Linked DNA regions of Homo sapiens. The protein of the gene in region 4 interacts with the protein of the main gene of each other region in a pairwise test. Each region holds a gene or a part of one and is shown on either strand. Other genes may lie near its edges.

The links.
Region 1: the proteins of HUNK (region 4) and RAB5B interact in a two-hybrid assay, tested with the Homo sapiens proteins (one large-scale study listed by BioGRID and IntAct).
Region 2: the proteins of HUNK (region 4) and IFT88 interact in a two-hybrid assay, tested with the Homo sapiens proteins (one large-scale study listed by BioGRID and IntAct).
Region 3: the proteins of HUNK (region 4) and ABLIM1 interact in a two-hybrid assay, tested with the Homo sapiens proteins (one large-scale study listed by BioGRID and IntAct).
Region 5: the proteins of HUNK (region 4) and LIMK1 interact in a two-hybrid assay, tested with the Homo sapiens proteins (one large-scale study listed by BioGRID and IntAct).
Region 6: the proteins of HUNK (region 4) and SMYD2 interact in a two-hybrid assay, tested with the Homo sapiens proteins (one large-scale study listed by BioGRID and IntAct).
Region 7: the proteins of HUNK (region 4) and DLAT interact in a two-hybrid assay, tested with the Homo sapiens proteins (one large-scale study listed by BioGRID and IntAct).

Annotation. Positions count from the first base shown.
Region 1 is NC_000012.12:55,984,078-55,987,577, forward strand, and holds part of RAB5B (ras-related protein Rab-5B), read left to right. Parts: intron 1-2,791; coding exon of another isoform or gene 2,792-2,883; coding exon 2,884-3,046; intron 3,047-3,500. UniProt on the Homo sapiens protein: The small GTPases Rab are key regulators of intracellular membrane trafficking, from the formation of transport vesicles to their fusion with membranes.
Region 2 is NC_000013.11:20,570,157-20,573,656, reverse strand, and holds part of IFT88 (intraflagellar transport protein 88 homolog), read right to left. Parts: intron 637-3,500; exon of another isoform or gene 506-636; intron 1-505. UniProt on the Homo sapiens protein: Positively regulates primary cilium biogenesis. Also involved in autophagy since it is required for trafficking of ATG16L and the expansion of the autophagic compartment.
Region 3 is NC_000010.11:114,441,776-114,445,275, reverse strand, and holds part of ABLIM1 (actin-binding LIM protein 1), read left to right. Parts: intron 1-1,141; coding exon 1,142-1,247; intron 1,248-3,489; coding exon 3,490-3,500. UniProt on the Homo sapiens protein: May act as scaffold protein. May play a role in the development of the retina. Has been suggested to play a role in axon guidance.
Region 4 is NC_000021.9:31,918,020-31,921,519, forward strand, and holds part of HUNK (hormonally up-regulated neu tumor-associated kinase), read left to right. Parts: intron 1-3,500.
Region 5 is NC_000007.14:74,086,804-74,090,303, forward strand, and holds part of LIMK1 (LIM domain kinase 1), read left to right. Parts: intron 1-3,500. UniProt on the Homo sapiens protein: Serine/threonine-protein kinase that plays an essential role in the regulation of actin filament dynamics. Acts downstream of several Rho family GTPase signal transduction pathways.
Region 6 is NC_000001.11:214,315,659-214,319,158, forward strand, and holds part of SMYD2 (N-lysine methyltransferase SMYD2), read left to right. Parts: intron 1-2,420; coding exon 2,421-2,481; intron 2,482-3,200; coding exon 3,201-3,325; intron 3,326-3,500. UniProt on the Homo sapiens protein: Protein-lysine N-methyltransferase that methylates both histones and non-histone proteins, including p53/TP53 and RB1. Specifically trimethylates histone H3 'Lys-4' (H3K4me3) in vivo. The activity requires interaction with HSP90alpha.
Region 7 is NC_000011.10:112,035,408-112,038,907, reverse strand, and holds part of DLAT (dihydrolipoyllysine-residue acetyltransferase component of pyruvate dehydrogenase complex, mitochondrial isoform 2 precursor), read right to left. Parts: intron 1,636-3,500; coding exon 1,448-1,635; intron 1-1,447.

The DNA.
Region 1 (3,500 bases), on a different chromosome or scaffold from region 4:
GTGGCACGATCTCGGCTCACTGCAACCTCCGCCTCCCGGGTTTAAGCAGTTCTGCCTCAGCCTCCCGAGTAGGATTACAAATGCCGGCCACCAACCACACCCGGCTAATTTTTTTTTTTTTTTTTTAGACTGAGTCTCGCTGTTGCTCTGTCGCCAGGCTGGAGTACAGTGGTGCAATCTCAGCTCACTGCAACCTCCACCTCACAAGTTCAAGCAGTTCACCTGCCTCAACCTCCCAAGTAGCTGGGACTACAGGCACGCGCCACCACGCCCAGCTAATTTTTGTATTTTTAGTAGAGACGGGGTTTCACCATGTTTGCCAGGCTTGTCTCAAACTCCTGACCTCCTGATCTGCCTGCCTTTGCCTCCCAAAGTGCTGGGATTACAGGCGTGAGCCACTGTGCCCGCCTTTTATTTTTTGAGACGGAGTCTCGCTCTGTCACCCAGGCTGGAGCACAGTGGCGCATCAGCTCAGTGCACCCTCTACCTTCTGGGTTTAAGCGATTCTCCTGCCTCAGCCTCTGGAGTAGCTGGGATTACAGGTATGCACCACCACACCCAGCTAATTTTTTTTGTATTTTTAGTGGAGACGGGGTTTCACCATGTTGGCCAGGCAGGGCTCGAACTTCTGACCTCAGGTGATCCACCTCAGCCTCCCAAAGTGCTGGGATTATAGGTATGAGCTACTGCACCCAGGCTGTGGCTGCTTTTTAGGAATATATTGATAACAACTAATATTGAGATATATTTTAATAGCTATTAGCACTATGCTAAACACATCTTTCACTTATTATTTGTAGCTATGAGGATGGTATTTTTTCCATTTTACAAAGGTAGAAGGTAAGGCTTAGAGAGGTAGAGAAATTCTCTTTATATCATATTAGTAATGATTAGTAGCTTAATATTTATTTAGCACTTAGTATCTATCAAATACTTAAAATACTTTAGTTATTTATATGCATTATCTCATTTAATCCTTACAACACCCTTATGAAGTAGGTGCTTATAAGGCTATTATCTCATTTTACAGATGAGGAAATGAATGCACACATATATTTAGTGACTTGCTCAAGGTTCATAGCTAGTAAGTAGAGCTGAAAAACAAACGTGGAGAATTGGACTCCAGAGCCTTTATTCCTCTGAATTGCCTCCTGTATGATTTTCTGTCTTTACGATCTAGTAAGTGGGGTTACTGAAAATTTTTAACCCCAGTTTAACTCCAGTCCCACTAATTGTGGTGACAAAATAATGATGTTTCCCCACATATGCCATAGAGTATGATGTCTGTGAAGTCACTAGGATCTGCTTTGGAAAAGCGAAAGAGTAATTTGAACAAGCAAAGTACAACTCTCAAGCAATGCTTAGGTTTGGGAGAGAGGTTTTTGCATGCTCTGCCTATGCTAACTTCCCTTTGAATTTCATAGTTCCTTTCCGCTCAGAGTCAGGATGATGAAATGTATTCAGATTTAGACGATTAGAATCTCAAAGTCCCAACTCTTCTCTCTGTTCCCTGCCCCACCAGCAGCTTTCTTAGCCCTCTTAGAAGATAGAGGAGCTGATTCAGTGTATTCTTTCATCAAATACTGATTGCTTGCAGACTTAACGCCCTATACCATCCTCTGGAGACTTCTGCATGTCTTTAGAAGGTATACCTTTCTCTGCCTCTAATTTGGAGGGCTACAGCTGTTAGGCCCCTTTGGTGTGGAGGGTAATCTAATCCCTAGGCACCAGCAAGACAGCTGCAAGTTGAGAGTAGGTCAAGCTTACTGATTCTTGATAGACTTTCAGATTTGGAAAGATGGCAGAAACAAAGTGAAAAAAGAGTTGTTAATGAAACAAAGAGTTGATAATGAATGTGATCTGTTGGTTGTATTTCTCTCTTTACCTTCAACCAAAAATGAGAAAGGATAGATTTTGTGGCAATGGGACCCTGGTTAGATCTTTAGAAATGTCTTATCAGGGAGACCGGTCATATATAAAGGATACAGCAGCAACTACCCTTCTGCCCTTAGGAGTGGTGACTCTTATCCCACACCCCTAGAGTGAATCTCTCATTTTGACAAAGAGCTAAGGAAAAATGAAAAGAAGGCCAGGCACGGTGGCTCATGCCTGTAATATCAGCACTTTGGAAGGCCAAGGCGGGCAGATCACCTGAGGTCAGGACTTCTTAGACTAGTCTGACCAACATGGAGAAACTCCGTCTCTACTAAAAATACAAAATTAGCCAGGCGTGGTGGTGCATGCCTGTAATCCCAGCTACTCGGGAGACTGAGGTGGGAGAATTGCTTGAACCCGGGAGGCAGAGGTTGTGGTGAGCCAAGATTGTGCCATTGCACTCCAGCCTGGGCAACAAGAGTGACGTCTCAAAAAAAAAGAAGAAAAGGAAAAGAAGAGCACAGCACCAGGATGCCAAGGAGATACTGGGGATCTAGGGTACCGGTGGGTGGATCTGGATATTCTTCAGGCCAGCTAAAGGTTGATCACTTTGTGTGACTCAAACAAAAAACTTTGAAGACCTGGTGGGGAATTACTGGGGAATTAAAAACTCTCAGTTTTCAGTCTCTCTATTTCGGCTCCCTTGGCAGTTAGAGATTATGTGGTAGGGCAGACTCCAGAAGCAGTTCTTATTTTGCTCTTCCCAACTCTTACCACTGAGGATCAGCTGCCTGGGACCTTCTCAGAGCTAAGTCCTCATAGAAGCAAGGAGATGAAGAGGTTCTATCCTTCTCTGAAAAGCGATTGCAGCTTCAATGGACGTATGTTTAATTTTATTCACTTTTTTTTCTTGCAGGAGTGTTGAAGCCTGGAAATCCCCTCCCCTTCCCCCTCCCCCCTTTACAGTATCCCCCTCCCTCCACCCTTTCCCATTCTGATAATCTGGCCATGACTAGCAGAAGCACAGCTAGGCCCAATGGGCAACCCCAGGCCAGCAAAATTTGCCAGTTCAAATTGGTCCTGCTGGGAGAATCTGCAGTGGGAAAGTCAAGCCTGGTATTACGTTTTGTCAAAGGGCAGTTCCATGAGTACCAGGAGAGCACCATTGGAGGTGAGTGCCTTGGGGTAATAGGAGATTGAATGTTTGGTAAGGGTTTTTTTTTTTTTAGATGGAGTCTTGCTCTGTTACCCAGGCTGGAGTGCAGTGGCGCAATCTTGGCTTACTGCAACCTCTGTCTCCCAGGTTCGAGCGATTCTCATGCCTCAGCCTCCCGAGTAACTGGGATTACAGGTGCACACCGTGGCACCTGTCTAATTTTTGTATTTTTAGTGGAGAGGGGGTTTCACCATCATGTTGGCCAGGTTGGTCTCAAACTCCTGACCTCAGGTGATCTGCCTGCCTCGGCCTCCCAAAGTGCTGGGATTACAGGCGTGAGTCACCACGCCGGGCCGGTAAGGCTTTTGAAAAGAGATATAAGACCTGATTATGGAGCTGGCCCTCTTAGTCCCATTCTTTTCCCCAGAAATGGAAACCCTTTATAAAAACAGAGGCCGGTCCCAGTGGC
Region 2 (3,500 bases), on a different chromosome or scaffold from region 4:
GAGTGTAAAATGATACACTTTGGGAGAAAAGTCTTGCAGTTTCATAAAATTAACTTTTATTAAAAGTACCTTTTATCACCCAGCAATTCCACTCAAAAATATTTACTCAAGAGGAATGAAAACATATGTCTACAAAAAGATTTGTATAAGAATGTTCATAGTAGCTGTCGACCTAAAGAAAGGAATTGAGGCATAAAATACAATTCTAAAAAGTTTACTTGAGCCAAAATGAGGACGGCTGCCTGCCCAGAACACTCAGACTTCATGTAACCTTGGACAGGCGCTCCATTTGGCCTTTGTTTCAAGCAGATCTTTAAAGGCAAAAAAGTGGGGCAGGGAGTGGGCTGATACAAAGCTGTCTGTCAGAAATTCTCACTGGTTTAAAAAAATAACGTTGATTAGTGATTGGCTACATTGTATGGGTTATAGTATCCAGACAGTGCCATTGTTAGATTAATTTATAGCTACTTATGGCAATAGCAAGCAAGTTTCAAGACATGATTACTTAGCCCAAGAAGGTAAAGGAGATGTGACTGCTGTTTCACTCCCACGCCTCTCTGGACCTGGTAATTTAGAGGAGAGTCTCATTCTTCAAATTAAACCTTTCTTTTCTTTGTCATAGCTTTATTCATAATACTGAAAAATCAGAAACAAACCAGATACCCATCAGTAAAATGGACAAGCAAAATGTGGCATACTTACGCAATGAAGTACTATCCAGCAATAAAAAAGAATCCCAATTATGCTGAGTGAAAGAAGCCTTACATAGAGTGTACATTATGCACTGTTTCCTTTATATGAAGTTCTCAAACAGGCAAAGCTAATTTGCGGTAGAAAACCATCAGAACTGAGATCGCTTCTTGGGGATGGGGGTTAGGGATTGAATGGAAAGGGACATGAGAGAATTTTCTGGGGTGATGATAAATGTTCTGTATCTTGGCAGGGGTTTGAGTCGCACAAGTGTATGCATTTGTGAAAACTCAGCAAATATACACTGCGATTTCTGCTTTGTAAATTTTACCTCAAAAGTAAGAACTATAAACAAATATTGAACTATATAATTGATACGCATGCTGTTATTTCAGGGAACATGTAATAGCTGTAATTTAGCTTAAAATACATAAAATAAGACAGCTTAGGCCGGGCGCCGTAGCTCATGCCTGTAATTTCAGGACTTTGGAGGGCCAAGACGGGTGGATTACTTGAGGTCAGGAGTTTGAGACCAGCTTGGTCAAGATGGTGAAACCCCATCGCTACTAAAAATACAAAAACTAGCCGGGCATGGTGGTGCACATCTGTAATTCCAGCTATTTGGGAGGCTGAGGCACGAGAATCGCTTGAACCCAGGAGGCAGAGGTTGCAGTGAGCTGAGATCATGCCACTGCACTCCAACCTGGGTGACAGAGTGAGACTCTGTCTCTAAAAAAAAAGATGGCTTGATAGATGGATTGAGAGATAGGTAAATGGATAAGTACATGATAAAGCAGCTATAGAAAAAGGTTAATGGTGGAATCTAGGTAGCAGGAGTAACATTCAACATAAAATTCTTTAAACCTTGCTGCATGTTTGAAAATTTTCATAATGAAATGTTGAGGGAAAAAATGCAAGACAGAAAAAAAGATATCAAAGCAAAATGAAACAGAAGAGTGAAAGCTGATCATACAAATTTGAGTCATTCTTGTCATACCCAACTAAAACAGAGTCAAGAAGCTGGGGTGTGTTGGTGGGGAGGCACTCAGGACACATAACATTGCTTGAAGAATGGAATTCTCTGCAAGTCTGGCTGCTGAAACTGGCTGCTAAAACCTGAGGCCAATTTTATTTATAGCTGCTGAGATAACTTGCTGCAAATATAGGACTAATTGTGCCCACCACAGCTACCCACCAATTAGAACTTGCCAGCTTCCCAGAACCTCACTAGTTCCAGTGAACTTTCTCAAAGAGCACTACATGACACTTCTCCTTTTGATAAACCTCCAACCTTCTCTTTGTTCTTTGGACATACCAAAGACCACCTGGTCCTCAAACTGCAATTCTTTCTTCCCAAATAAAAATGTAAAATTTCAAGATTCATCTCTACATTTTGACTTGGACAGAAGCATGGGAGAAATGAAATTACCATATAGATATACTGTAAATCTAATAATTACTAAAGAATCTGGCAAGGATTCCTGGAAGTATCATTCAAATCAAGTCAATATTTTAGGCAATTTGAGGGGTGGGAGGTGGAGGAAGGCTAATTACCCAAGAAATGTAGTATTGCTAGTATTCAAGAAATGTATTTTCTTTAAAGCAAATACATATTTTCTTAAGGCCTGTACATTTTAAGTGCACCAGCAAATTCCTAAGAAATTTTCAGCTTAGGCTGGGCGCAGTGGCTCACGCCTATAATCCCAGCACTTTGGGAGGCCGAGGCAGGCAGATCACGAGGTCAGGAGATCGAGACCATCCTGGCTAATATGGTGAAACCCCGTCTCTACTAAAAATACAAAAAAATTAGCCGGGCATGATAGCAGGCACCTGTAATCCCAGGTACTCAGGAGGCTGAGGCAGGAGAATGGCCTGAACCTGGGAGGCGGAGGTTGCAGTGGGCCGAGATTGTGCCACCACACCCCTGCCTAGGCGACAGAGCCAGACTCTGTCTCAAAAAATAAATAAATAATAAAAATAAATAAATAAAAAATAAATTTTCAGCTTAATCTTTTTCTCAGCATAATACCACATATATGTGGCTTCTCATAACCTTTAAAAATTATTTATATATTTTAAATACTAACAAAATTATTAGTTTTTGAACTATAATTCATATACCATACAATTTAACTTTTCAAGGTGCAGTGGTTTTTAGTATATTCACAAGGTTGTGCAACCATCCCCAGTATGTAATTCCAGAACACTTTCATCATCCCATAAAGAAATATGGGGCCTGTTAGCAGCTCTCCATGCCTCCCTTCCCTTTCCCCAGTCCCTGGCAACCATTTTCTGTCTCTATGGATTTGCCAATTCTGGACATTTCATATTAAGGAAATTACACAATATGTAGCCTTTTGTGTCTGGTCTCTTTCACTTAGCATAATGCTTCCAAGGTTCATCCACGCAGTAGTATGTATCAATATTTCATTACTTTTTATGGCTAAATACATCTGCAACATTTTGCTTATCCATTCATTAGTTAATGGACATTTGAATTGTTTCCACTTTTTGACTTTTATGAATAACATCACTATGAATGTGTGTGTACAAGTTTTAGCATGCATATATAGGTCCAATTCTATTGGGAATATATCTAGTAAAGGAATTGCTGGATCATATAGTAACTCTATGTTTAACTTTTGGAGGAACAGCTAGACTGTTTTCCAAAGTGGCTGCACTATTTTACATCCCACCTGCAATGCATGAAGTTTCCAATTTATCCATGTCCTAGCCAACATCTGTTACTGTTCCTGTTTTTGATTATTGCAATTCTAGTGAGTATGAAATGGTATCTCATTGTAGTATTG
Region 3 (3,500 bases), on a different chromosome or scaffold from region 4:
CTAGTTACATAAGATCTATATTTTTTGAATGACTACTATGTATAAACCATCTAGATAGGCAAGAGGTGGTCCCAGTCTTCAAGGGGCTTGAAATCTGGCAGGCAAGGCAAGACAGGTGTCTGTTAATAGTAACTAGAATATGGCAGAATACCTGCTGGGCTCTAGAGGAGATGGCATTGGTGCTGGAGGTCAGAGGGGTGTGGAAGGTTTGGGTTGTTGTGGGAAGGAAAGAGAGACCACATGGGGGCATGTGTGCAGTGCATGTGTTGAAAGGCTGCTGGAGGGCCAGGCAGAGCAAGGTGGTATCCACCCAGGTAGTGCCACACCTTCCTTCCCTCATGCAGTTCTGCTGAAGGAATGACTGTGGGATTGAACATTTCTCCAAGTCTTTTCCCAGGATGTGGGCCAGGAGAAAAGGAATGAAAGGAATGGCCACCATGAAGGGGTCCTCTTCATACCCTCCTTCCTGTAGCAAGGGCCTGCAGCAGCCCAGAAGGACAGTCTGTTATCAGTCAAGAGGCTGCTGAATCCTTTCAAATGATGTTTTCTAAGCATATAGGAAATGCACGTGATATTAGTCAAAGGATACAAAGTTGCATTTATAGTATGATCTCAGTTTTATATGTGTGTATACAAAAATACTAGATAGATATAAATCAAAAGATAGTGTTATTTCTGAGTGACATATTATGGGTTACTCTTCTTTTCTTCTAGATTTTCCAAAATCTGTAAAATTAGCATGTATTACCTTTATTTCTTGTTTTTAAACAAATCAAGGCAATTTCTTTTTAAAGGATACCAGCCCCAGTCTTCCCTTCCCACATCAAAAATCCACACACACTCACACATGCCTTCTGAGGTCTCCTGGCTCTTTAGGGAAAGCAGAGGAAGGAAAACGTTCTTCTAACACAGAGCCTGACTTAGGGAAATGGAGCTTTGAAACTGAAAGGGCTAAGAGGGTTTAGGGTCCCAAACTTGACCTACCTCTTCAGGAACTACCAGGCTCTGGGGCCACATGCATTCAGGCCCTCCAGCAAGAGAAACTTCTTGTGGGATCTGCTACAAAGAAACTGCAGCTCCATGAAAGTAATTGCAAGCTTTGCTTTCTTTTTTTTTTTTTTTTCCTTTTTTCTGTGAATAGCTTAACTCAGGCCTGGGACAGTTGATCTTGAAAGAAGAGATGGAGAAAGAGAGCCGGGAAAGGTCATCTCTGTTAGCCAGTCGCTACGATTCTCCCATCAACTCAGGTAAGCAGCAAACCCCCAACCTTCCCTGATTCGAGAGCCAGCCACCTGCTTGTAAGGCACCTGCCTTGACTGTTCACTTGTGGTGGAACCTACAGAGTATTCCACGGGAAAGGAAGTGTGGGAAACCCACTCCATGTCAAATGAGCTCATAAGCATGTCATGGGTCTTCCATAAATGTGTGTTTCCTTTCTTCTGGAAATGGGTGAACCCTTGGAGGTTCTCAAAATCCATGAAGGCCAATCCCCATATACTAGGTTTGTCTTCTAGAACACTCATCTCCAAGGGAAGCAGCAAAAGGAAATCCTCTAAAAAACATGATGCTTTTCTTCTTCTTCTTTTTTTTTTTTTTTTTTTTTAGATAACATGAATAAGACATTTTCTAAGCATTATGATTTTACATTAATATCTTCAATAGAGGCCGGGTGCGGTGGCTCATGCCTGTAATCCCAGCACTTTGGGAGGCCAAGGCAGGCGGATCACCTGAGGTCAGGAGTTTGAGACCAGCCTGGTCAACGTGGCGAAACCCCATCTATACTAAAAATACAGACATTAGCCAGGCGTGGTGGTGGGCTCCTGTAATCCCAGCTACTCGGGAGGCTGAGGCAGGAGAATCACTTGAACCTGGGAGGTGGAGGTTGCAGTGAGCTGAGATCACACCATTGCACTCCAGCCTGGGCGACAAGAGTGAAACTCCATCTCAAAAAAAAAAAGAAAAAAAATCTTCAATACAAGAACTGAGGATGAACAGTGTTTTTGATACTTTTGAAGAAGATGACTTATACACTGGGCTGAAATAGCCTATCAGTGTATTTTCCCCTGTATCTATTTGTCATAAGCCAATTCTCTCTTAAACCACAAGATTTCTTCTCTCATATTCTGAGCTAGAGCATAATTTTCTCCTCTAAGAGTTCCTTTAAAAATGCATTTAGTGGGGAGACCAAGGCGGGCAGATCACAAGGTCAGGAGATCGAGACCATCCTGGCTAACACAGTGAAACCCCGTCTCTACTAAAAAATACAAAAATCAGCCAGGTGTGGTGGCGGGCTCCTGCAGTCCCGGCTACTCGGGAGGCTGAGGCAGGAGAATGGCGTGAACCCAGAAAGCTGAGCTTACATTGAGCCAAGATTGCGCCACTGCACTCCAGCCTGGGTGAGAGTGAGACTCTGTCTCAAAAAAAAAAAATGCATTTAATGTTCACTCCATGCAAGCATTTTTGCTAAACATTTTATTTAATGTTCACAACATGCCAGTGAAGTAGATGTGGTTGTTATTAGCAACTGCAGCATTTTCATCTCTATTTTAGAAATCAGGAGGCTGGTATAGAAATTGAGTTAACATACCCAGCGTGATACGCCAATAACTAGCAAGACTAGGATTTAGAAGTCCACATATTATAACCCCGGAGCCCACACCCTTACCTGGAATTCCCGCTACCCTTCATAGATGCCTCACTGGCATTGATCTTGGATTCGGTGGTTTACAAATCTTTAGAGTTCCTTGGAATTCTGAGATTCTGCTCTATAAGAATGTATAACATTGTACCTGCATAGATGAAGAAATGAGGACTTCAGAAAGATTAAACACCATGTCCGGAGATACAGAGGTATTAAGTTGCAGAACCAGAATTCAAGCCCAGGGCTGCTCCCTCTCAAGCCCAGCAGCTTATCAGGCTTCCATATCATTGACAGATACCCTGTATCAGGCCTCCCAGGAGGCCAGCTGTAGATGGCTGGTAGATCTTGATAACATACAGGGTTGGCTTCCAGTTCAGTTACTGCTGCCTTATCAACTGGGGCATGGGCTAATGTATTCAGATATCCCTGATTTACATCCTTGCTCAGCTGTTTAGAAGCTTAGTAACTGTTGGCAGGATATTTTTCTTAGCCCCTATTTCTCCTTCTGTAATATGGAACTAATAATCATAGTGTTATTAGGGTTATATTGAAGATTCAAAGAAATAAAGCATGCTGAACACTTAGCTCCATGCCAGAGCTATAGGAAGCACAGCCAGCTTCAGCCCCCACTCAACCGCGTGGACTTGACTTTCCCTTCCCTCCTCAGTCATATCACTGTCCACCCACTCCTTGCAAATATGATGGCATATTTTTGAACATTTGAGCCCAATATGATTTGAATTTTTTTGGTATTTCTATCCTGTGAGGTAGAAGATACTGCCAATTTCATTAAAGGATTGGACCTTCTGATTTCCTAACAATTGGTTTTTTACTTTTTTCTTACTCAGCTTCACATATT
Region 4 (3,500 bases):
GTGTTAGCTTTGTTTTGCCTGCAAACCTCTGATTACTGTCAAATTGAATTAGATGTCTCCCTTTGCTGATCACTGATTGACTTTTCCTTAATTTCCCATTCATTTTTTTTCCCCATTTCAGTTGTTATAGATGAAGTCGATTAAATGGTTTTGTGTAATCAAGAACGGCATTCCATTTCAGTATTATCAACTTGTAAGTATGGAGCTTGTAAGTCAGGGGGTGGATGAAAACAAGCTGATAATGAGCTGGTATTTGAAAATTGAGAGGGAGCTTAATAGGAAACCTTCTCCAAGGTGAGGTAGCTTAAGGGCTCAGGGTTTTCATGGAGGGAACCTTGATGGCAGAACTTGGGAATCAAGGTGTCAGATGATGGTAGGGCACACACCAGGGGTGTTAGTTTCCTGCAGCTGCTGTAACAAATGACCACAAACTTGGTGGCTTAAAACAACAGAAAGTGATTCCCTCACAGTCTGGAGGCTGGAAGTCCAAAATCAGTCTCATTGGAGATCAAGGTGTCAGTAGGGCCACGCTTCCTCCAGAGACCTAAGGGGAGACTTGGACTTTGCTTCTTCTCCCAGCCCCTGGTGGCTGCCATGGGCATCTCCTGGGCTTGTGGCCATGTTATTCTCTTGTCTCCGTCTTCACTTTGCTTTCTTCTCTGCTTGTCCATCTGATCCCCTCCGTCTTTTAAAGACATTTTTGATGGCATTTAGGACTCACCCAGTTAATCCAGGACAGCCTCCCCATCTGAAGACCATTAACTTCATCATGTCTGCAGAGTCCCATCCCCCTAAAGATGACATTTTCAGGTTCCAGGGATTAGGATGTGGGCCTATCTTTGGGAGGCCATTTTTCGACTTACCACACTGGGCCTGCTTCACGGAAGGCCTTGGTACGACGGCCCAAGGCCTGGGCTGGACTGAGTGGTATGAGGTTGAGGGGCTGGACTGAGCGGTATGAGGAGGAGGGGCTGGACTGAGCGGTATGAGGAGGAGGGGCTGGACTGAGCGGTATGAGGAGGAGGGGCTGGACTGAGCGGTATGAGGATGAGGGGCTGGACTGAGCGGTATGAGGAGGAGGGGCTGGACTGAGCGGTATGAGGATGAGGGGCTGGACTGAGCGGTATGAGGAGGAGGGGCTGGACTGAGCGGTATGAGGTTGAGGGGCTGGACTGAGCGGTATGAGGAGGAGGGGCTGGAATGAGTGGTATGAGGATGAGGGGCTGGATGGGGTTTCCAGGGGGTATTTCCCCAGCACCATAGATCACCTCATTGCCTTGTCCTTTCACCTTCAGGAAAGGGAGGAGGATGGGCTAGAGAAAGAGCAAGAAGTGAGAGAGTGGGGAGAAATGCTTGGAAATACTGCATTTGCACAGAAGTTGGAAGGTACAGGAAGAACTGCCTAAAGAAAAGCCTAGCATGCACCCTTAAGCCTGGCATGTGGGAACCAACACCAATTGTTAGGATGACTGTAATCGTACGGCTGTGATAATGAGGTCTAGATTCATGGAAAGAGCCACCTGGGCTGTCCTTTCTGTTCAGAGTGGTCTGCAGTGTAGACACTTGCTAACCAATTGTGGAGCTTCATAGGGTCCTATTTTGACATAGCTCATGGAGGTGCAAAACCCTGATATGGGCTGGTTCAGCCCTGGGAGTGGAGCCTGAGAGGGAGTTCGTGAAGACTCTGCTCTCCGTGGGTCTCATGGACGTGCGGGAGCAGAGGGGACGGTGGAGTCAATGAGGAATTGTCAGAGGCTCCTGAGACTACGCTGAAGGGCTAGAGTGAGGAGGAGAGAGAGGCTGCCGGTGAAAGGTGGCGTCATTCCCCACTGCCAAGGAGGGTCTCTCCATGCCTGGAAATGCGTCCCAAAGGGCATCAGATAGATTCCTTATATTTTCAGGGAAGCTATTTGTTCCTTGTGGCTGCTATAACAAATTACCACTCTGGTGGCTTAAAGTAACAAATTGATTCTCTCACAGTTCTGGAGGCCAGAAGTCTTAAAAAGTATTGGCAGGGCCACGCTCCCTCCAGAGACTCTAGGGGAGGATCCTTCCCTGCCTCTTCTGGCTTCCAGTGGCAGCCAACATTCCTTGGCTTGTCGCCCCTCACCCCAATGTCTGCCTCCTTCCTCCTGTGGCTGCCCCCTCTGCTTATTTGTGTGAAAACTCCTTCTTTCTCTATTTTATAAGGACACTTATGAGGACATTTAGGGCCTACCCAGGTAATCTAGGCTAATCTCATCTCAGAATTCTTCACTTAATAACTTCTGCAAAGACCCTTTTTCCAAATAAAGTCACATGATCCAGAGATTAGGCCATTATTCAACCTGGTACAGGCAATTGAAGAACTCAATAAGGTATCTTAACTATAATTGTGTACTCTGTTAAAAAGGCAGATTGTATTACTGCTGGGCCTTTAGACTTGTTTGTTTACAGTACTTGTAAGAATTTCATTGCCAGAGGGTGTAATTTTTTAGATACTGCCACACGGAGTGGAGCAAAGACAATGCCTAATTGTACTTTTCAGCATTCTTTTTTCTCCACCTCCCCAAGAGGATGGATATGAAATATGTGTGTGTCTATGTGTTTTTGGAGGGTAACAGTTAACAAAGCTGTTAGTTTAGCATCCCTTGAACTACTTGGGGCCAGACACAGCCAGAGTGTAACTTTACCTCCTGGGGGCTGAGAGCATCAGCCCGAGCTGACTTGAGGTAGTGCAGGCCCCATGCTGTGAGGTGTGGATGGCAGGGGCTCTTCTAGCCTGTCTGGTCCCCTTGGGGGCTGATTGACTCTTTGTTACTCCCATCTTTGGATTAAGGGCCTGAACCTCCCTATTAAAATGAGACTCTGGGCTGGGCACGGTGGCTCATTCCTATAATCCCCGCACTTGGGGAGGCCAAGGTGGGCGGATCACTTGAGGCCAGGAGTTTGAGACTAGCCTGGCCAACATGGCCAAACCCTGTCTCTACTAAAAATACAAAAATTAGCTGGATGTGGTGGCGGGTGCCTGTAATCCCAGCTACTCAGGAGGCTGAGGCAGGAGAATTGCTTGAACCCGGGAGGCAGAGGTTGCAGGGAGCCGCCAAGATTGTGCCACTGCATTCCAGCCTGGGCCACAGAGCGAGATTCCATCTCAAAAAAAAAAAAAAAAAAAAAAAAAAAAGAAGGAGACACTGCTCTATAGAGGAGATAATACATTATGCTGTTTATAGCCATCTTTGCTTTGGTGATTCCATTGGTTAGTCACTATTAGTCACTTGCTGTTTATGAAGCGCTGTGTGTCGTGAAGGGGGAGTGGTCCCTGCATTAAGCCATGACTTACATCTTACTGCAGATGCTGTTGTATAGGGACGTAGGGAAGGAAGGTGCGGGGGAGTCTCTCTGGTAGGGAGGTTAGCCTCTGAAGGACCTGGGGTTGGGGGCTTGAGTGGGGGAAGGGGGTGGCTGGAGTACCTGGAGAGTGATAGAATGCATGTCCCAGGGAGTGACAAGACATGCCA
Region 5 (3,500 bases), on a different chromosome or scaffold from region 4:
GTGTTCATGCTCTTGCAGGGAGGGAAGACAAACCAGGCCTTAAGGGAAACCAGGCCACCCTCAGTGTCTTCCAGGCTGCTTGCGAACATGCATAACCCAGTCACACCAGCCCCAGTGTCCAGACACACACCCACAGGTAGGAAGAAAGTAGGGTCAGGGTTGTGGCGGAGGATAAAGAGTACATGAGGACCTGAAGGTCACCCAGTAGGACCATCCTGAGAAGCCAGGAGCAGGGGTCTACCTGCCTTGAGCCAGAGCAGGGCCAGAGCAGGGGTCTCAAAGGATGTGAGATTTCCTGGGTAGAAAAGTAGAGTGGAGGTGGGGCGTGGTGGCTCACACCTATAATCCCATCACTTTTTGGGGCTGAGGTGGGCAGATCACTTGAGTTCAGGAGTTCGAGACAAGCCTGGGCAATATGGCAACACCCTGTCTCCACTGAAAATACAAAAAATTAGCCGGGCGTGGTGGCGCATGCCTGTAGTCCCAGCTACTCAAGAGGCTGAGGTGGCAGGGTTACTTGAGCCTGGGAGGTGGAGGCTGCAGTGAGCTATGATCGCACCACTGCACTCTAGCCTGGGCAATAGAGCGAGACCCAGTCTCAATTTTTAAAAAAGAAAGAAAGAAAAACAAATGGTGTGGGAGAGAATTACAGGCATAGTCACCAAACAGCAAGGTTCAGGGGAGAAAACTCCATAAAAGGGTAGAAGGTGAAGCTTCTGGGATGCCCAGCAGGGGTCAAGACATCCACCACTAGGACTTTATTTTAGGCTTCTGCCTTGGTTTATTTTTTGGTTTTTGGTTTTTTTGAGACAGTCTTGTTGTGTCGCCCAGGCTGGGGAGCAGTGGCGCGATCCCTCCTCACTGCAACCTCCGCCTCCCAGGTTCAAGCGATTCTCCTGCTTCAGCCTCCCAAGTAGCTGGGATTACAGGTGTGCACCACCACGCCCGGCTAAGTTTTGTATTTTCAGTAGAGATAGGGTTTTGCCATGTTGGCCAGGCTGGTCTCGAACTCCTGACCTCAAGTGATCTGCCCGCCTCAGCCTCCCAAAATGCTGGAATTACAGGCATGAGCCACTGCACCTGGCCTCGGTTTGTTTTTTTGTTTCTTCTTTTCTTTTTTTTTACACAGGGTCTTGCTGTGTCACCCAGGCTGGCGTGCAGTGGTGAGATCATAGCCCACTGTAGCCTCCAGCTCCAACTGGTTCAAGCGATCCTTCTGACTCAGCCTCCCAAAGTGCTGGGATTACAAGCATAAGCCACCATGCCCAGCCTGTTTTTTCTTTTTTAGGAATAACGTCTAACGTTTTCTAACATTCAGTAAGGGACAACCCCTGTTCTAAGTACTTTGCATAGTTAGATATTAGTGCTGTCTTTGTTTTGCCAGAGAGAAAATTGGGACACAGAGAGGTTAATTCTCTTGATGAAAGTCACACAGCCAGTGAGTGAAATGAACACACTCAGTGTGGCTGAAAGGAGACAGACAGCATGCCCTGGGATTCTGCATCAGGTGCTCAGAAAGAGGCCTTCGGGGGGCAAGAGGGCTCTCAACAGGCAGAGGAAACCATCTGCACAGCGGTGGGATGGTGCGGACTGCTGAGGGAACAGGAACAGTTCCCTTGGAAGGAACAGAATAAGCTGAGGGATCCAACAAGAAACAAAGTTGAGACCGATTCGTGAAGGGCCTTGAATGCCAAGATAAGGAGTTTCAGAAGTCAGGATGGGGGTGGTGGCTCATCCCCGTAATCCCAGCACTTTGGGAGGCCGAGGCAGGCAGATCACTTGACCCCAGGAGCTTGAGACCAGCCTGGCCAACGTGGTGAAACCCCCGTCTCTACTAAATATTCAAAAATTAGCCAGGCATGGTGGCACATGACTGTAATCCAAGCTACTCGGGAGGCTAAGGAAGGAGAATCACTTGAACCTGGGAGGCGGAGGCTGCAGTGAGCTGAGATCACGTCACTGCACTCCAGCCTGGGAGACAGAGCGAGACTCCATCTCAAAAAAAAAAAAAAAAAAAAATAGAAGGGAGTCGGCAGAAAGCCAGGGAGGGGCTGGGGTGACATGCTGTTGAAGAATGCCATCCCAGTGGGCCGGTGGTGGTATCTAGGCAGGGAAGGGACTGTCCCAGTAACTCAAGGGTCTGAGCTCATAGGACCTGACCTGGGACAGTGACTGAGGATGGAGAGAATTTCAGGCAGAAGGGACAGTTTTTGGTGAGTATTTGTCATATTGGCTACCATGCATTGAGCACTCTTCATGCTAATTTGTTAAATCTTCATCATAACTCTATGAGGGACTGTATGTGCCCAGTTTGCATGGGAGAAACAGAGATTCCATGCAATCAAGTGCCTCGCTGAAGGTTGTAACATCTAGAGCTGGGACTAAAACCTTCTCACTCCACATCGCCACAGAGTAGGAAAGGCAGGGGCTGGCGGTGGCACATGCCTATAATCCCAGCCCTTTGGGAGGCGGAGGCAGGTGGATCTCTTGAGCCCAGGAGTTTGAGACCAGTGTGGGCAACATAGTGAAACCTTGTCTCTACAAAAAAATTAGCTGAGCATGGTGGTGGTGCCTGTAGTCCCAGCTACTCAAGGGCGCTGACATGGGAGGGTTGCTTGAGCCTGGGAGGTGGAGGTTGCAGTGAGCTATGATCACACCACTGCAAGCCAGCCTGGGTGACAGAGTGAAATCCCATCTCAAAAAAAAGAAAGAAAGGAAGAAAGAAAAAGACAGGGGCTTCGGGGAGGGCATGGGCACTGGCGAATGGCAGGGTGGAACCTGAAGCCATCTGGTTTTCTAACCTGGGCACTGGGGAGTTGGTGGTTTGTTGACTCTGATGGAATTGGGGGTCATGTTGGGGAGGAGACATGCTCATCTGTGTTGAGCTGGAGGGGACATGGGCTATCCATGGTGGCTGTGTCCTGCCCAGAGCTAGCCATGGGAGCCTGAGTCCAGTTGGAGGTAGGAAAGTCAGAAAAAACGGCCGCCTCGGAGCTGGCCCTGAGATGGTGAGTGGGATTTGTGATAGGGCCAAGACGAATGAAGGGAAGAACTTTGGGGACCCCTGTGTCTGCGGTGAGGGGGGAGATGGAGCCTTGGGTGATGGAGAGAGGGTCAGGAGTAGAGCCACAGAAGCCACAGGAGGGAAGCCGTGTTACAGGATGGGTGTACCTGGCTTTGGAGTGGCCTGTCCCAAATCACTCACCAGGAGAGGGGTGAGTCCCCAGGTCAGGGCAGTAAAGAGGAGGCATGTTTGTGCTGTCCCTGGTGTAGTGAAACTCAAGAAGGAAGCCAGGTGCAGTGGCTCACGCCTGTAATCCCAGCACTTTGGGAGGCCAAGGCAGGCAGATCACCTGAGGTCGGGAGTTTGAGACCAGTCTGGCCAACATGGTGAAACCCCATCTCTACTAAAAATACAAAAATTAGCCGGGCCTGTTGGTGGGCGCCTGTAATCCCAGCTACTCAGGAGGCTGAGGCAGAAGAATCGCTTGAACCCGAGA
Region 6 (3,500 bases), on a different chromosome or scaffold from region 4:
GCGGCAGCAAGACAAGATGGTGGATCCCTGCACCATTACCCACCAGAGCCAGGGCTTATATACCATAGGGAAGAAATGTGTACAGCAGTTACAAGGAAAGGCAAGGATGCTATGCAAATCTGCCTGAGAGCAAGATTTGTGCTCAAGATTGTATTGACCTAAGGCAGGATTTAAGGTAGCCATAGACAAAGTAGAAATCTTAGAAGCATTCCCAGAGCAGGAGTTAACCAGAAATCAACATGGTATATCAGCATCCAAGATGAAATTGCTTTAGCCACCGTACTGACTGTTCTCCGCCTGGTCTGGTTCATTCTTGCTGATTGCATAATAATTAGACACCTAATCTTCGAAGGGCCAAACTAAAAAGAGGACAGGAAAATGCCATAGAACTTGTCCTTGTGATCCAATGAAATAGGCAGTGTGGGGCTTAGAAGGCATATGTCCAGGCTGTGGAGGTCTTGCTCCTCAGTGCTGTCAGAGAAGTTGGTGGCAGGGCCTCTGGACTATAAATCTTTTAAAGCTGAAATTTTGGCTGGGCATAGTGGCTCATACCTGTAATCTTAGCACTTTGGGAGGCCAAGGCAGAAGGATTGTTTGAATCCAGGAGTTCGAGACCAGCCTTGGCAACAAAGTGAGACCCATTCTCTATAATAAATTTTAAAAATTAAAAAAATTTCCCAGGTGTGGTGGTATACACCTGTGGTCCCAGCTATTCTGGAGGCTGAGGCAGGAGAATTACTGGAACCCGGAACTTCAAGGCTGCAGTGAGCTGTGATTGTGCCACCATACTCCATCCAGCCTGAGCAACAAAGTAAATGAGACTCTGTCTCTAAAAATGAAAAAAAAAAACAAACTGAAATTTCATCCACTTCTCCTGTATACCTACCAGCCCTCCTCCACCCTTAAAATTTTTCTATTTTTTAATCTAAGCCAAATGTGATGGAAATGATTAGCATGTATCTGTCCCCAGACCAAGTTAGGATCCTGGGCTGTGTAAACAGAAGTAGAACATTTCAAAACTCTGAGGTCATCCTTCAGCTATGTTCAGCTTGGGTCAGGTGCTTGCCGAAATGCTACCTCGCCAGCCAGCCGAGAGTAACAAAGGCCATTCATGGGTTGCCTGTAGAGTGAGACCAAAACATCAGAATTGTTTCCCTGCAGGAGGTTAACTTTCGGATCCTTAATAACAGTTATTTTTAAATTTATGCAGAGTATTTGGGCTGAATAAGTCAGAGGGAATAGGATGACTGGGTGTGAGGTATCAGAGTCAGTAAGTCATCAGATGGGATCTCCGCACATCTTGGGAGGATTGGGTGGCCAAGCTGGTGTTTTATTATTTTGTTCCCCTGAATTATTGATGATATTTATAGTGATATGTTAAGAATTCAGAAGAGGCTGGTAGACTTTCCTGAATGAAAAGCTTTCCCAAGCGAGATGACTTATAAATCTTATAAAAATGCATCCCGTGAATGGAAGATTTCTGCTCCAAAAAAGAACTATTGAAATATTTCGGCACCAGGAGGGTAGTCTGAATGCAAAGATGAGTTTATACAAGCTTCATTCAAGTTTTATTATAATTACTACTACTACTAATAGTGTATTAAATGAAAGTTACCTGCCCATCTTTTCATCTCTATAGGACTTGATGATTAAAAAAACAGACCATTTGTATTCTAGTAGCTTGCAAAGGATTAGGGGAGACAGGCTACCAAACTACCAAGGGGAGGCTTAACATGTTAACTAGGGAGGTGAGCGTGCCCTGCTAGACCACCTGTATCCCCAAATTGAATAGCCACATTACAAAGACATGGCCTTGGGCCAGCTCCTGAGCTCTGCCTTTGAACTCTTGTCAACACCAAGTTTATTCATGTTCTCAAAGCCTAGCGGGTTTACTATTGTTAGCTCCTCTTGGGGTGTCTAGAACAAAGCCAGCAACGCGTTTAAAGTGAATCTGGGCTCACAGATACAACCAAAAGTGTTCTTTTTGAAACACAGAATTTGAGATCATTTTAGCCTATGCTTAAAGAAAGTGTAAAATGGATGGGGGGTTTGATTTTGTTCCTTTTTAGAAGGAGAAATAATAAATAGGATGGTTTGTCTGTAGACCCAGTCCTTTTAAGTAAGGACCCTAAAAAGTTGTTTTCCGGCCCTGTTCTTTCCCGTAACAGGTATTTCTGAGCCTACTGTGTGCATAGTATTATCAGGGTGTTAGGTACACGGTAGACATTTAAAAAAGCGCTTTAGAAGAGTCTTTGGATTTGGCTGGTGGAGAGCCCTAGTGGTGGAGTCCTTGAGTAGCTTGTTTTACTTCCTTAAGAATTGTTACTTTTTCTTTATGTTGATGTAAAAGTGAAAGTGCCACTTTATTACACTGGTTGTTAAAAAATCTGTATCTGTGTGATTTCTTCCCCAATTGCTAGAAAATCCACCCAGAGAGAACACCTTCGGAAAAATTGTTAGCTGTGAAGGAGTTTGAATCACGTAAGTCTTTCTGTGACCAGCCGCGCAGTTCTCTCAGCCACAGATTTCACATGGGTTGGGCAGGATTGAAGCGAGGACGGGCTAGTTTGTGCTCAGAGGAGTAGTGATTTCTTTGATTACTAGTTTTTATTTTTACTCTTGTGCTGTTTCGAAAAGCACTTTTAGCTTTTTTCTTCTGAGTTGACAGGATTGTTAGGAAATAATTAAAGGAGGTAGGAGCTCCCAAAATGAATTATTGCACCCTGAGCTACCTCCTGCTGGCCCTCTTGGCATGCTGAATACTTTTGGATCTTTGCTGAATTGCGTCCTCTAAATAGCTGATGTTCTTACTGAAAGCCGTGAAATCAGGGGTTGTCCAGTTGTTTGACCACGGCCCAGATTCCCGGGCCAATTGGGGGGCCCTTGACTAGGCTGAGGCTGGTTATGAGTCATTGCTACCCATCCCTGACCTCATTGCTAACAGTCAGTCGAAATCTCACGTCCCAAGTGACTTCTAGTCATCAGAGGGAGAGAAGGAAGAAATGGCTTGCTTTCTTTCCTTAGGGTTTGTCAGTTAAACCAAGTAATGGGGAAGAATGTTCTCTGGGGGTTCAACATGTTAGTTTTGGGTTTTTTTTTTTTCGCCCGTTCCTTTCCTCTGTATCATTTACAGCAAAAATAGGATGTAGCTAGAAATCCCACGCTTTCTACTGGGTGAATAATGGATTATTTATCCACAGATCTGGATAAGTTAGACAATGAGAAGAAGGATTTGATTCAGAGTGACATAGCTGCTCTCCATCACTTTTACTCCAAGCATCTCGGATTCCCTGACAATGATAGCCTCGTAGTACTCTTTGCACAGGTAAGGACGCTGGCAGCAGGTAACACTCAGTCTGGCCTTTCCCTCTCCAAGGCCCTCTCCCTAGCAAGCACTCAGTGAAGATGAATGCAAATAGAATGATGGCATCTTCCTGACAACGAAGCTCTGAGCCAATTGGACCGTGTGTTGCCATAGCCTTGCTCAGTGACCTTGAGCA
Region 7 (3,500 bases), on a different chromosome or scaffold from region 4:
CATCACCAACATGATTTTTATTTTTAATTATCCTAACTTCTTTTTTTTTTTTCTTTTTATTTGAGACAGAGTCTTGCTCTGTCACCCAGGCTGGAGTGCAGTGGCGCAAACTTGGCTCACTGCAACCTCCGCCTCCTGGGTTCAAGCAATTCTCCTGCCTCAGCCTCCCAAGTAGCTGGGATTAAAGGCACGCACCACCACGCCCAGCTAATTTTTTGTATTTTCAGTAGAGATGGGGTTTCACCATGTTGGCCAGGCTGGTCTTGAACTCCTGACCTCAAGCGATCCACCTGCCTCAGCCTCCCAAAGTGCTGGGATTACTGGCATGAGCCACCACACCCAGCCAGCTAATTTCAAAATATAAAATTATGCTGTAAGGCCCCATGTTGAAAAGTATCTTAAGAAATACGGCCAGGTGTGGTGGCTCACACCTGTAATCCCAGCACTTTGGGAGGCCGAGGTGGGTGGATCACCTGAGGTCAGGAGTTCGTGACCAGCCTGGCCAACACGGTGAAACCCCTTCTCTACTAAAAATAAAAAAATTAGCCGGGCATGGTGGCTAACACCTGTAATCCCAGCTACTCGGGAGGTCGAGGCAGGAGAATTGCTTGAACCCGGGAGGCATAGGCTGCAGTGAGCCAAGATCACGCCACTGCACGCCAGCCTGGGTGACGGAGCAAGACTCCGTCTCAACAACAACAACAAAAGAAATCCAACAACAATGCTACTTGCCAGCTTCCCACAAATGTACAGTAGTCAGAAATCAACTTTTCTCTTATAGAAATGTTTACCTAGTTTAAACTCACATGATTCTAGCATCTGTGAGAATCACTGAAGCTTCACTGTCAGTGTTATCTCTGGTTGGAGTTATACAAGTTCAGGTTATAGTTATATAGTGTATCAAGTATTTGGTGATATAATAAATTCTAGGCAAAACAAGTCATGTCAAGGTTCCACTGTATCACAAATATATGCTTGACCTACTAAGTCAATAACAAGAGGATTTCAAGTGACAGAGATTATTCAGTATATTTAATAATAAATGGGCAATGAAGTGAGCTATGATTGCACCACTGCACTCCAGCCTCAGCAACAGGGTGAGACCTTGTCTCTTAAAAAAAAAAAAAAAGGGTGGGGCAATGAAGCCTTACTTTCCACAAGCATGGTATCTGTATCTAAAGCAGAAAGAGAACATGTCACTCAGCTTTGTTCTCAGCAGGACTCTAGATAGCAGGAAGAAAAAAGCTACAAGGCCCAAACTATCAACCATTAGGTGAACAGTGCAGTACAACAAACACTATAGGTCTCCACAAATGTTAATAAACTATCTCCCTCCTCAGTCATAGAATCTTGGAGGTGGAAGGAACCTAGGATATCATCTAATCAAAACTCCTTAATTTAGAGATGAACAAGGTAAGTGTTTCCTGAATTCTAGAAGCATACCTACCGGGGGTGGGGTAGGTGGTGGCACTTGTGGTTTTAAATCTGTTACTTCGGTTGGCCTATAGTCAGCAAATGCTGATATATCTGCCTCTTTTTCTACAATGATACAGAGTGGGGTTCCTAGAGGGACATCTCTTGTGCCTTCAGGGACCAGGATTTTTGCCAGATAACCTTCTTCCTGTACTTCAAAACCTTAAATAGAAAGAAAAAACATTATGGGACTTAAGAGATTCCACTATCCCTCCAAACTCACAGCACAGTTTTAAGTAAAGTGATTTTTCTCATTCAAGCTAGCTATATAGCCTTTTTTGCAACCTATTTAACCTTCTGTGTCTTGGTTTCTTTACCTACAATACGGGGATAATAATAGTACCAATCTCACTGGATTGGTACTGGGATGTTATACATTTAAACAGATTAATATTTTTCAAGTTCTTAGAAATAATACAACCTGGTACAAAGTAAATGCCAAATAAAAATCTGTTCAATAAAACTATGAAAGATTACAGACAGTGGTTAGTTCTCAAAGTTATTAAAAAATCTCCAAGGACAGTCCCCATGCAGACTCACAGGACTCTAAGATGGTGTCAGCTATGCTGCTAAAGATAAGAACCACATACATGCCTAATTAAGGGAGCTACCAACCTAGATACTAATGTTGGATTTCAGCCCTAAAAGCATCTTTGGAACTTTTCAAAGAGGTTATACTTGATATTATACCAAGTATTTCAATGTAAAGAATTACAGCTTTACTGGGATTTCTATGGTGTTGACAACTTATATTTTATTCAACTACTGCCTTCCTTGCAAAGAACTTAAACATTTAGGATTGCAAAAGTAAAACTAAAAGAAGCCATTGGCTTTCTGTACTGTTGTGCCTCTCCTTGATGAACACATCTTTGATGAATCCTTCCATTTCCCAGCTGAGAATACCCAATAAAAAATATGTTTAGGCTGGGCGCGGCGGCTCATGCCTGTAATCCCAGCACTTTGGGAGACCGAGGCGGGTGGATCACCTGAGGTCGGGAGTTCGAGACCAGCCTGACCAACGTGGAGAAACCCCGTCTCTACTAAAAATACAAAATTAGCCAGGCATGGTGGCGCATGCCTGTAATCCCAGCTACTCGGGAGGCTGAGGCAAGAAAATCACTTGAACCCAGGAGGTGGAGGTTGTGGTGAGCCGAGATCGTGCCATTGCACTCCAGCCTGGGCAACAAGAGCGAAACTCCGTCTCAAAAAAAAAAAAAAAAAAAAAAAAAAAAACACACACACACACACACACACACACACACACACATATATACACACACATATATATATATACACACACATATATATATGTTTAAGTCTGGAGATATATATATATATGTTTAAGGCTGGGCACGGTGGCTCACGCCTGTTATCCCAGCACTTTGGGAGGCCAAGGTAGGTGGATTACCTGAGGTCAGGAGTTCAAGACCAGCCTGGCCAACATGGTGAAACCCCATCTCCACTAAAAATACAAAAATTAGCCAGGCATGGTGGCAGGCGCCTGTAATCCCAGCTACTTGGGCAGCTGAGGCAGGAGAATTGCTTGAACCCGGGAGGTGGAAATTGCAGTGAGCCAAGATCATGCCATTGCACTCCAGCCTGGGCGACAAAGCAAGACTCTATCTCAAAAAAAAAAAAAAAAAAGGCTGGGTGCGGTGGTGGCTCACGCCTGTAATCCCAGCACTTTGGGAGGCACAAGGCAGTCAGATCACGAGGTCAGGAGTTCAAGACCAGCCTGGCCCACATAGTGAAACCACATTTCTACTAAAAATACAAAAATTAGCCGGGCGTAGTGGCATGCACCTGTAGTCCCAGCTACTCAGGAGGCTCAGGCAGGAGAATCGCTTGAACCCAGGAGGCAGAGGTTGTGGTGGGCCGAGATCACGCCACCGCACTCCAGCCTGGACAACAGAGCCAGACTCTGTTTCCAAAAAAAAAAAAAAGAAGTGTTTAAAATGAAAAGGCTCCTGGGCCACAATAGACTTCAAAGTTCAACCAAGGTAACACTTCTCTAGTGACTAGTCTCT